Regions from separate parts of the Homo sapiens genome. Here regions 1, 3 and 4 are each linked to region 2. The links come from fine-mapping of genetic effects on gene expression. A gene starts in region 2. Each other region holds a variant in brackets. All regions are shown on one strand. Distances are from middle to middle.

The links. PIP is the estimated chance that this variant, and not a neighbour inherited with it, causes the effect.
Region 1: its variant is fine-mapped to the expression of TIGIT in whole blood (TOPMed, PIP 0.92).
Region 3: its variant is fine-mapped to the expression of TIGIT in whole blood (TOPMed, PIP 0.90).
Region 4: its variant is fine-mapped to the expression of TIGIT in whole blood (TOPMed, PIP 0.98).

The regions. Positions count from the first base shown.
Region 1 is chr3:114,321,778-114,324,466 of GRCh38, forward strand. It overlaps ZBTB20 (zinc finger and BTB domain containing 20), which reads right to left. Exons shown (of 12, transcript NM_001348800.3): 12 at 1-2,689. Among named protein-coding and RNA genes, the nearest start is that of MIR568, 6.6 kb to the left of the region's middle. The variant A/G (reference allele first, on the strand shown) is at 1,136.
Region 2 is chr3:114,292,529-114,295,195 of GRCh38, forward strand. It overlaps TIGIT (T cell immunoreceptor with Ig and ITIM domains), which reads left to right and starts at 1,500. Exons shown (of 4, transcript NM_173799.4): 1 at 1,500-1,594. The coding sequence starts at 1,534.
Region 3 is chr3:114,327,115-114,329,803 of GRCh38, forward strand. ZBTB20 (zinc finger and BTB domain containing 20) reads right to left here. Exons shown (of 12, transcript NM_001348800.3): 12 at 1-2,689. Among named protein-coding and RNA genes, the nearest start is that of MIR568, 12 kb to the left of the region's middle. The variant C/A (reference allele first, on the strand shown) is at 1,399.
Region 4 is chr3:114,271,676-114,274,364 of GRCh38, forward strand. No RefSeq gene overlaps it. Among named protein-coding and RNA genes, the nearest start is that of TIGIT, 21 kb to the right of the region's middle. The variant A/G (reference allele first, on the strand shown) is at 1,367.

The DNA.
Region 1 (2,689 bases), 29 kb after region 2:
AGTTTAGAATCTAGTGCAAATATCATCAAATCACAGCATTCCAGAGCAATATCCTGTCCCTTCATCCTAAGTGGATACTGTCCCTTCAAACCTCCTCAGAAGACTGGAGGCAATGGTACAGAAAAGCGTAACTGAATAAATTATTAATCTAGTACTCACTACGACAAGAAAGGCACTATCACAACAGATCAGCCTCCAAGCATTTTCCTTGCCATGGGCATGGGCGTTTCAACCACTCCAGAAATCACAACAAAATCCAGACTGTGGCTTTTTCAACACTTGAATTCATTGGCCAGTTGTCTGACTCTCCCACCGGTCACTGCTGTTGGCTCTGGCCATACAGAACCCTGATCTGCACTGTGTACATGCTGCCCTATGTTTCACCAGTGACCTTTGTTTGGTTCTAAATGATTTAGCTCACTCTCTTCCATGGAAGTTTCTTTCTCTCCATCAGTCTCCAGGTCATGACTCTATTAAAGATCATTTACAGTGTCAAGTAGTGTTGTTTATTTTTTTCTATTTTTTAAACCTCTGATCAAATCCAAAGTCATAAAGATAGTTCAGTACGTCCTCTGATGACAAGGTCTCCTGTAAATACCATTGTGAACAGAAGGAAAACCATAGTGTAATCCCTTGACCACCAAAGCATATCCCTTGAGCCTGTTGTAGTACTTTTTTCTGGGAGAGAGGAAATTGCGATCTGAAGATTAAAATCTTTGGTGACAGAACTGGAGTGGATATGCAAATTTCAAGGAAGAAGTTTTCCAAAGCCTCAAGAGAAGTATCCTAGGACAGTTAATGTGAATATATTTTAAAAAGTCAATCATTTCTTTCTATAGCTTTGGTTTGGTGCAGTCAATGTCCTCTTAGTGATTACCCAATACTTATTTCTAAGTACCTGTTAAAAGCTCTGGATTTAGTTTCTTACTTAAAACAGAGATAATGCTTTGAGTGCTTAAGGAATTTCTTATGCTAGTTTGGATGGCTCTAAATGGAGTTTTTCTGACTAACAAGGCTGACAACTTTCTGAACAATATTTAAACTTGGAATAGTAGACTTGGACGGATAGTAAAGAAGAGAGAGAAAAAGACAGGTTATCAATGTTGTAATCTTAGGGAAGGGGCCTCAATTGAGA[A/G]TTTTCCAAATTGATGCCCCATATGTGACAGTGTTCAGAGAAATTCAACATTAGCCATTTATATGGGTTGTGATCCTTTCCTACTGTGCCAGAACCTTCAAAACTGTCACTTTGAGTTCCAGAAGAGTCCTTCAGCATCTTTACTCTTGTGTTATTATTTCCCACACAATCTATTGCTTATCCTGTGATGAAAGATTCTTTTATTAACAGTTACTAAAGAGCTGTCAAACTCTGATTACTTCTAAGATTAAAAAAGATAATAAAAATAAATTTAACAAAGAAAAGTTAGGAAAAAACCAATTTCAAAACTAAACTTTTAGGCACTATTAAGGTCTTCTGCTTAGTAAGGATAGTCTATGATGGAGCAGCTAGTATGTTCTAATCCATCCTCCAATGTCCAAGTTGGCCTAGCTTGTTTCAAAATAAACCTTTCACTTCACTGGTTTTCAGTGTTTATTGCACTGTTCCCTATCTGTCATCTTAAAGGACTTTACCACATGCATAGCCTTCCTCTTTGGTTAGCCTGATCTAGGTTTCACCCAGGGATGGAGAAGCATAATCAGGCTGAAAAGTAATTCCAATATGGACAAGGCTATGTGTTTTTGAAAGGAGCACATCCTACTGCCCTCTGCCACACTAAAATGTGCACAAGCAAGGGGCTTTGTGGAGGAGGCCAAGGCAAAGACTTCTACATCATATCAATTGGCTTCTTCACTGTTAAAACTCTTACTGAGAGCTCAGTCAGAAACAAGATTGGGTAAACTTTTTCTTAAATGTTCTTAATTGCTGTACTAACTCAGCTTCTTTACAGTAAGAAAACAGATCCTATCAGCATGGTGGTTCCTAGGCCTGATCAAGAGTTGACAGAGATTCCACAGATTCTCGCCAACCCTGCTAAGATCAAGCATGATGAAAATAACTCTGCATTTTAGTGATGCTCCTACTTCCATAATTTGCCTTTTTCTTTCCCATACGTAACACACTCTCTCCCAGCACAAGTAAGTACATTTCAGTAGTGCAATGCAGTGCAGTCATATTTAGTGCAAAAAAAAGCCCTATTATAACCCAAAGCTCAACTCTAAACAGCTCTTACAAAGGTTACCAGTGCTACGAAGGTGGGAAATTCAGTCTATCTCACACTTATGTGAGTCATCTCTTTTGTTGCTCCTGTTTGTTTCAGCTCAAAGTAGAGAAACTAGCATGCACCTATGTATTTTCTGTAAAACATTAAGCCAATAGGCAGAAAATAAAAGGAAGTAGTCTAGTTAAAATCAAGGGTATTATTTAGAAGAGGAAAACAGCTATTTAATGTAAAGGTCAGTAGTGGTTTTTACTTAATAGTTTTCATCATGTCAGATGGCTCTAATGCTAAGGGGAATGGGTTCAGAAAAAGATAAAGCTTTCCTGTTTCTTGAAACACGGTCCTAAATTTAACAGTGCTGGGCTTTTATTTTTGAATAGTGCAATCAGCTATTCCTCAAGGGCTACAGGCAGCAGCCACCTAACATAACATAAATAGGTACACTAGGAGCACTCACTTTTCTACATTGATCA
Region 2 (2,667 bases):
CCACTTTCTGTGCTCTAGTCCCACTAGCTGCTCTTGGCCCTGCCACTCCTGGCTCCCCGGCCTTAGTGAGTTTGGGAAACATCCCTCCAGTTCAACCTTGGCACCTTCCCTTGGACACACATTAGGTATTATTTCTCCTTCAGCTGAAGGCTTTGTAGCTATTGAAAGGCAAGGCATCTCTTGATGTGAGCCTTGAAGGACAGGTTGCTTTGGGTAGGCAGAGAGAAGCTGGTAAGGCGTATATTGTCTAAGGGTCTGGAGGTGGGGTATAAGGGGTATACAAGTCATAGAGTTGGGGATAGGCAGAACCCAGAGAGGGGAGAAAACTGGCCTGAGATAGAAGACCTTGCAAGGGAGAAGGAGGGTAGGAGCCTGGATGGTGTGAAATGCTAGAGGTGCATGGCTGGAATGGAGGGGGTGGGGCACCAGGCTTCAGATGCTTCTGGGTGCAGATGCAGATTTTCAGGATGTACAACATGGAGCATCCCCAAGGCAACTGTGTTGAGAGCCTGCGAGGCAGGTGAATGTGGATCTTCTACCCCCTCTCCTGACTGAGTTCACCAAGGAACAAGCTTTGTAAACTATTTGAGGGTAGGGGCTGTGATTATTTACTCTCATATCCTCAGAGCCTGGTGTTGAGGTTGGTGCTTTGTAGGCACCCAGGGACTTTCAAATGAATGAAGGGAGGGAGGGAGGAAAGAAGGATGGGTCCATAGTAGGACCTGGTGATGGGCTGGGAGCTCCAGGCAAATGTCAACCAATCCCTCTCCTGGGTCAGCTCCCAGGGGCTCACCCTTCTTTGCATTTCCAGCTCTCATGAGGTCATTGTGCACAGGAAAGCTCTCTCCTCTAATCTCCTCTGATCCTACTGCACCAGAGAAATCAAGCCAGAATTCAATAAAGTCTCAGTCCAGATAAACAAGACAAAAGAAATAAGATTCGAGTAGAAGATCTCCTTCAAGGGAAAGTTGCTGTGTTTGTCCAAGACCTTTGTCCCATCCATGTATCATCCCCCAAGTAAACACTTCTTGTTCACCTGTTCATTAGATTTCAAGTGCAGTCCCTGGCCTGTAAGTCCCTACAATGATAAGCTTCTCTTATCATTGCACATTCTTCATCAGGAGGATGCCAGAGGAGCTCAGCCAACAGTTCCTCATCAGTAGCAGATTCTTCAGAATCTTGGGCACTACACAGATGCCCTTGAGCTCTTTGAATAAAGGCTGATTTTTAGAAAAAACATTAAGACAGAACTTAAAAACAATAGATTGACTATAATCCAAAGACGAGTGTACCTCTAACCACAATTTTCATTTATTTTTAAATGTTTCCTTCATGGCCTTTCTTGTGGCTCACCCTATGCAGTTTGTGTATTTGTTGACAACTTTATGTGTTTTTAATATGGTTTTTGCCAAACTTGGTTTTTCCGAGACCGTCTTTTCTCAGAGGCTCAGTTTTACCGTCCTATCTGCAGTCGGCTACTTTCAGTGGCAGAAGAGGCCACATCTGCTTCCTGTAGGCCCTCTGGGCAGAAGCATGCGCTGGTGTCTCCTCCTGATCTGGGCCCAGGGGCTGAGGCAGGCTCCCCTCGCCTCAGGTAAGGCCTGAAACCCAGCAGAGCAGCAGGGAGGAAAAACAAGGCTAAGCTTGGTTGGAGACTTGGGTGCTTGTGTAGGGAAGACTCCAAGAGCATGCCACAGCTGCTTGAGAGAAAGAAATTGCAACTTTTAGAGTCCTGTGTACTCTTATTTAAGAAAGGACAATCTCTGAGAATGAGGTGGGGTTCTGTTTTTGGTGGCAGATGAAGGACTTTGCAGACTTCCGGGGTTGGAGGAGCCTGACTGGCCAGCACAAGAAGGAGCAGGAGAAGAAGAAGGGCTGGGCAGGAGGCATTGCCAGTTTGCTTTTAGAAGCTCATTCCTGCTCCAGCTTCTTTTCTGTTGCCTTTCAGGAACTTTCCAGGAAAACATTATAAGTTCTCTGTGAATTGAAAATGTCTTTTTCACAGATTCCAGAGGTTCTACCACTAGAGACTGATTTTTTGTTAAATTTATTTCTTCTATATTAAAAATCAGAGTCAAATATTTCTGAGGGAGGGGAACACAAATATTTAAAAACTGTGGTATAAATTAGTTTTTATGTTGCCTTCTGAACTATCTGAGGATGGAGATGTGCCCAGGGTTGCTGGGGAGAGGTTAAGTGCTGAGAGGGTGGTTATGCCTGGGAGAAGCAGGGTTTCCTGCTAAGCTTCCTTTGCTATTGGATTTCTTGGCTTTCCTGAAGGTTTTTTCAGGCACTGCAAATGACAATCAACCAAACAGCAAGGTTTTATTTCAAAGGATAATGCATCCAGCATAGAACTAGGCCGCAGGAAGAAACATAAAAACAAAACAAAATAAAAACAGAAGAGGTGGTATCAGCTGACAAGGGCTTATATTCTAAGTGGGTAGACAAAATAGGCCTACGAAAATAACAAGCTGGCCATGAAGCTACATAGCAGAATATGCGAGGGGGCAACGTGCTAAGTTGTGTAGTCATAAGCCAGGCATTTAGTAAGGTGCTAATTATACAATACAGGCAGTGAATGTGAAAGGAAAAGGGAGGTTGAGATGGGCTGAGGTCTTCTAGGAGGCGGGGAGGGAGTGCAGCCTTGACAAGCCTCCCTGTGGG
Region 3 (2,689 bases), 35 kb after region 2:
TTGGAAAGACAGGAGGCTCATAAGCAATAATAAATTCACACCCTGGAGTCTCTAGAATATCAAACAGGATTTAGACATTAATCTGAGACTAACACAGAGGTTGTGGTGAGAAATTCTGGGTCTTGGGGTTGGAATACTTCTTGGGGAACTAGAAAGAACAGCATCAAGAAGGCATCCCAGATTGAGGACCAAGTAAGATCTATCAGAACCAGAGCCTCTCCTCCTCCATATTATACTTTAAATGACAGCATTTTAGGATTTAAAAGAGTCTTTCTTCCTTTGGAAGCCAGTGCCTAAGGAGAGGATTACTTTAGATAAAGAGTACTTTAAGAAAAAAAAAATACCAGGAGTTAGAATGGACAAAGAAAAAGAAGGATATAGGATTGATTGGGAGAACATTCCAAGTGAAGATCATAGTCCTAAGCAATGTAAATATTGCCTTTAAGAGATGTTGTTTTCCTACTAGATGCATGCCTCATAAAGGCTTTCAAAACTGCTATTTATTTCATTGTTCTCTATGGTGTGAGTTGATGTTATAAACTGGTTTGATTAAGATAAAAGCTGGGTCAAATCTCAAGTCAAATAAAAATACATTTCTGATATTAAATGTTGATTCTTTTTGTCAAAGGGTAAAGCAAGAACTGAAAGCATACCGCCTATGCACTCAAAACCACATAGTACTCTAAATGTCACAGGACTTGTCTTCATTAAAGCTGAGAGGCGATGTGGTATCATGGCAAGAATATTGGACCAGAAGTCAGGAAAGACTGTGTTACGAAGTTGTTGTGAATGTGATATTATAAGCATCCTGAAAAGGATACACCCAGAATGGTATCAGTCAGTCTTTTGGGCAATGCTCTGGTGACCAGACAGTTGTAATCCACTGCAGGGAGATCTAGCATGACAACCAAATTATATGGGGCGTATTTAGGTGCTGGGGAGTGCACTGCATGGCTCTTTAGGTATCCATTTAGCTCTGTTATTATTTTATTTAAGTATATATTAAGTTTATGTTTAGGCAATCTCTGGTTGCAAAAACAGACACTTTCAAAACTTTATGGATCTTTTCATCCATTAGTAAGTTACTGCTCAAAGTTCTAAACAAATCAATGATTTTTTTTTCAAAAAGGCAATAAATAAAAAAACTCTTCCTAATTTTTCCTACAATGTGTTCAAGTGGATGTGGCTTTTCTTGTTTGAGAAGAGCTCACTAAGGCTTGAACAGTTATCAAAATTATTTTGAAATGTTACTCTTTTCTTTAGATTCCTATAATCTAAAGTCTGATAAACAAGTAATTTGACTAGTGGAAACAGTCAACATTAATGATTCTTTTTTTCTCCGTCAAAAGTGATTTACTCATATGAAGAACCTGAACACTGTGGTATTTAAAAAAAAAA[C/A]AGAAAATATTTTTCTCTTCATTTTTGGCCAAACGTGAAGGTAAGGGGAATTAATGACCTCAGCTAGTACAGTTGACATTTAAAACTGTGACTCAGGTCCTCCCACTCTCAAAAGAATATTGATAACTTTTAAACTCTGAAGCTAAAATGAAGACATGCTTCACTCTGCCTACGAGTCTCAAGTTTATGAACTCACTCACTTTAGTGTTCTTTCATTAAATAAAACTTAAAGAAGGATGTTCAGAATGGGGTGGAGAAAGGAAGAGAAATGAACAGTTAGGGGTCACAATTATTAGAGTTTTGGGGGCAGTAATGAAGACAAATAGGTAATTTGAAGTAGTCTTCAAGAGAAACAAGAAATAAAGGGAAAGGGTTAGGAAAAGGAAAGAGGGAAATAATGAAGTTGATATAATTTGGATATTATGTGATCATTAGAGAAGAAACAGCCTCACTAACAGTCAATTCACAATTATGTTTGTCTAGTAGAAATATATCTGCTGGAACACTTTGGAGAACAGATTGGTAATTTTGCCATTACACTAGACATTAGCCCTTTCAAAGCAGACTAAGAGTACGTAGTTCCTTAGTGAATACAAGGCTTCACAACTGAAGAGCATTGCAGGGAGCTTGGCTAAGGTGAAAAGGGACTTGCTGGAGAGGTACAGCAGAATGGGATGGGATTAGAAAACAACAATCTATTAGGAAAGATGAAAGGAAGGAATTCCCCAGTGTTCACGCTGAGAAGTCTTCATATTGGACCAGTGTGAGGGGGTCTTTTATACTGAGGTTTTAAAAACCTGACTTCATTTTGTCCTGAATGTAGAAGTGAAGAAGGACACTAGTTTCAGGCACCTGGGATGGTGGAAAAGTTTATTCAACTGAGGCTTTCCATGCATTGGGTTGAATAGCTGAGGGAAGCTGAAGACTCTTATCTGAAAATATGATCTGAAAATATTTATTGTATAGGAAGACAGAATGCCTGATTTCTGAAGTTTTCTTGATGGCCCAACTAAAGAAGAAAGGCACCAAATCCTCACTTTAACAGGTAAATGGAGATCCTGAGGGCTGGATACCCAAGAGCCACCATTTTACGGATTCCTCAGATTTAAAAATGTCTCAGATAGATATTTCCAAATTCTATTTCTATTAGCCTCTGTGGATAAAGAGTTCCTGAAACTCTGGTTTTACTTTTTTTGGAAAAAAAAAAAAAAAAAAAAAAAAAAAACAACTCCCAGGAAAATGAACACTATATTGCCAAGCTGCCTCCAGGGAAAGGTTGAAGACTAGTTAA
Region 4 (2,689 bases), 21 kb before region 2:
GGTTTCCACTTTTGCATCTTCTTCATTTTTTACTCTTGCTGCCGCCATGTAAGAAGTGCCTTTTGCCTCCCACCATGATGCTGAGGCCTCCCCAGCCATGTGGAACTGTAAGTCCAATTAAACCTCTTTTTCTTCCCAGTGTTGGTTATATCTTTATCAGCAGTGTGAAAACAGACTAATATAACTGGCCTCACCCAGCTCCCATGCAGCCAGCAAGGTCAGTCTGACTCCTGCCAGCTCTCCCAACAGCCAACAGAGCTGAATTTATATCCAGGCTTCTGGTGCATAGGGTTGAGGTCCTACCTCAGTCTACAAGCCTCCCCACTGAGAAAGCAAGCAGGGCTTTCAGGTCTTGCCCTTCCCTGCCTGCTGCAGCTTCTGTGCTTGTATCTGTACTTCTTGTTCACCCTCTTGCTCCAACTTTTTTGCCCAGGAAAATTCATGCTCGGTCAAAATTATTACAAAGTTCCTTTGGAAGCCTTCTTTTCCCTGTGATCCTTCCCCAATTCCACTGGCTGCCCTCCCCAAGGACCCCTATGAGATAAAATCAGAAATGGCTTCCCTGAGGACTGGGAGTGCCTACAGGGCTCTTCCTGCTGCTACTTCTACTTTTATATTTCGCTTGGCTCTCTAAATTTGTTTAAGCTCTAGGTAAGGTTAAATCCTTCTCCTATGATCTGGATTTTCAGGTTCCCCAGTGAGGATGTGTGTTCAGAGGCAGGATTTCCCCCTTCACACTTTTGGAACTGACAGATTTTTGGCTGTCTCATGGAGTTTGCAGTGGAAAGCCACTTCTTTCAAAGGGTCTATGAATTCTTTTGGTTTTCCTGGTATGTTCCTGCAGTGGTTCTTGGAGCTAAAGTTCACAGTGTGTTTTCACATGCTGTTCTGTCCATCTGAGTGGGAGCTGCAAGTTAGTCCTGCCTCCTATCTGCCATTTTTTTTCTGAGAGCTTTCACTTTTACTGCTCTAACCTATTATTTTAAACTGATGATAACACTTTGTTTATGTTTATTTATGACATTGCATAAACAAACAAGCAAGAAAAAACTAATAAAACCTCTACACTTTAACTTCATCCTATCACTTTTTAATTTTTTATTGTTTCTATTTATATCTTATTGTACTATGTCTTAAAAAGTTGTAGTTATTATTTTTGATTGACTTTTCATTTTACTACTCAAGATATGAGTAATTTATGTACCACAATTACAGTGTAATAATATTATGTATTTTTCTGTGTATTTACTATTAGCAGTGAGTTTTGTATCTTCAGATGATTTCTTATTCCTCATTAACATCCTTTTCTTTCAGATTGAAGAACTCTCTTTAGCATTTCTTGTAGAACAGGTCTAGTGTTAACACA[A/G]TTTTTTAGCTTTTGCTTGGGATGGGCAGATTACGAGGTCAGGAGATCGAGACCATCCTGGGTAACACGGTGAAACCCCATCTCAACTAAAAAATACAAAAAATTAGCCAGGCATGGTGGCAGGCACCTGTAGTCCCAGCTACTCAGGAGGTGAGGCAGGAGAATGGTGTGAACCTGGGAGGTGGAGTTCGCAGTGAGCCAAGATCGTGCCACTGCACTCGAGCCTGGATGACAGAGCAAGACTCCATCTCAAAAAAAACCCAAACCAAACCAAACCAAAACAAAACGAAACAAAAATCAGATCTCGTGAGACCTATTCACTATCATGAGAACAGCACAAGAAAGACAATGCCCATGATTCAATTACCTCTTACTGGTTTCCTCTTACAACACGTGGGAATTCAAGATGAGATTTGGGTGGGGACACAGCCAAACCATATCATTTGAGTTAAATCTGCTTGGTGTTCTAGGACCTTTTTGTACTTTAATATTGATATCTTTCTCTAGGTTTGGGAAGTTCTCTGTTATTATCCCTTTGAATAAACTTTCTATCCCTATCTCTCTCTCTACCTACTCTTTAAGGCCAATAACTCTTAGATTTGCCCTTCTGAGGCTATTCTCTAGATCTTGTAGGCATGCTTCATCCTTTTTTATTCTTTTTTCTTTCATCTCCTCTGTGTATTTTCAAGTAGCCTGTCTTCAAGCTCACTAATTCTTTCTTCTGCTTGATTCATTCTGTTCATAAGAGACTGATGCATTCTTCAGTATGTCAATTGCATTTTTCAACTTAGGAATTGCTGTTTGATTCTTTTTAATTATTTCAATCTCTTTGTTAAATTTATCTGATAGGATTCTGCATTCTTTCCCTGTGTTATCTTGAATTCCATTGAGTTTCCTCAAAACAGCTATTTTAAGTTCTCTGTGACATATCTCTGCCTCTCCATAATTGGTCACTGGTGTCTTATTTAGTTCATTTGGTGAGGTCATTTTCCTGGATGGTCTTGATGCTTGTGGATGTTCAGTAGTGCCTGGGCATTGAAAGTCAGATATTTATTGTAGTCTTTGCAGTCTAGGTTTGTTTGCATCTTTCTTTCTTGGGAAGGCTTTCCAGGTATTCAAAGGGACTTGGGTATTGTGATCCACATTTTGGTCACTGCAGCTGTATCTGCATTAGGAGGCACCCCAAGCCCAGTAATGCTGTGGCTCTTGCAGACTCAGAGGTACTGCCTTGGTGGTCTTGGATAAGATCCAGAAGAATTATCTGGATTATCAGGCAGAGACTCTTGTTCTTTTCCCTTACTTTCTCCTGGACAAATGAAATCT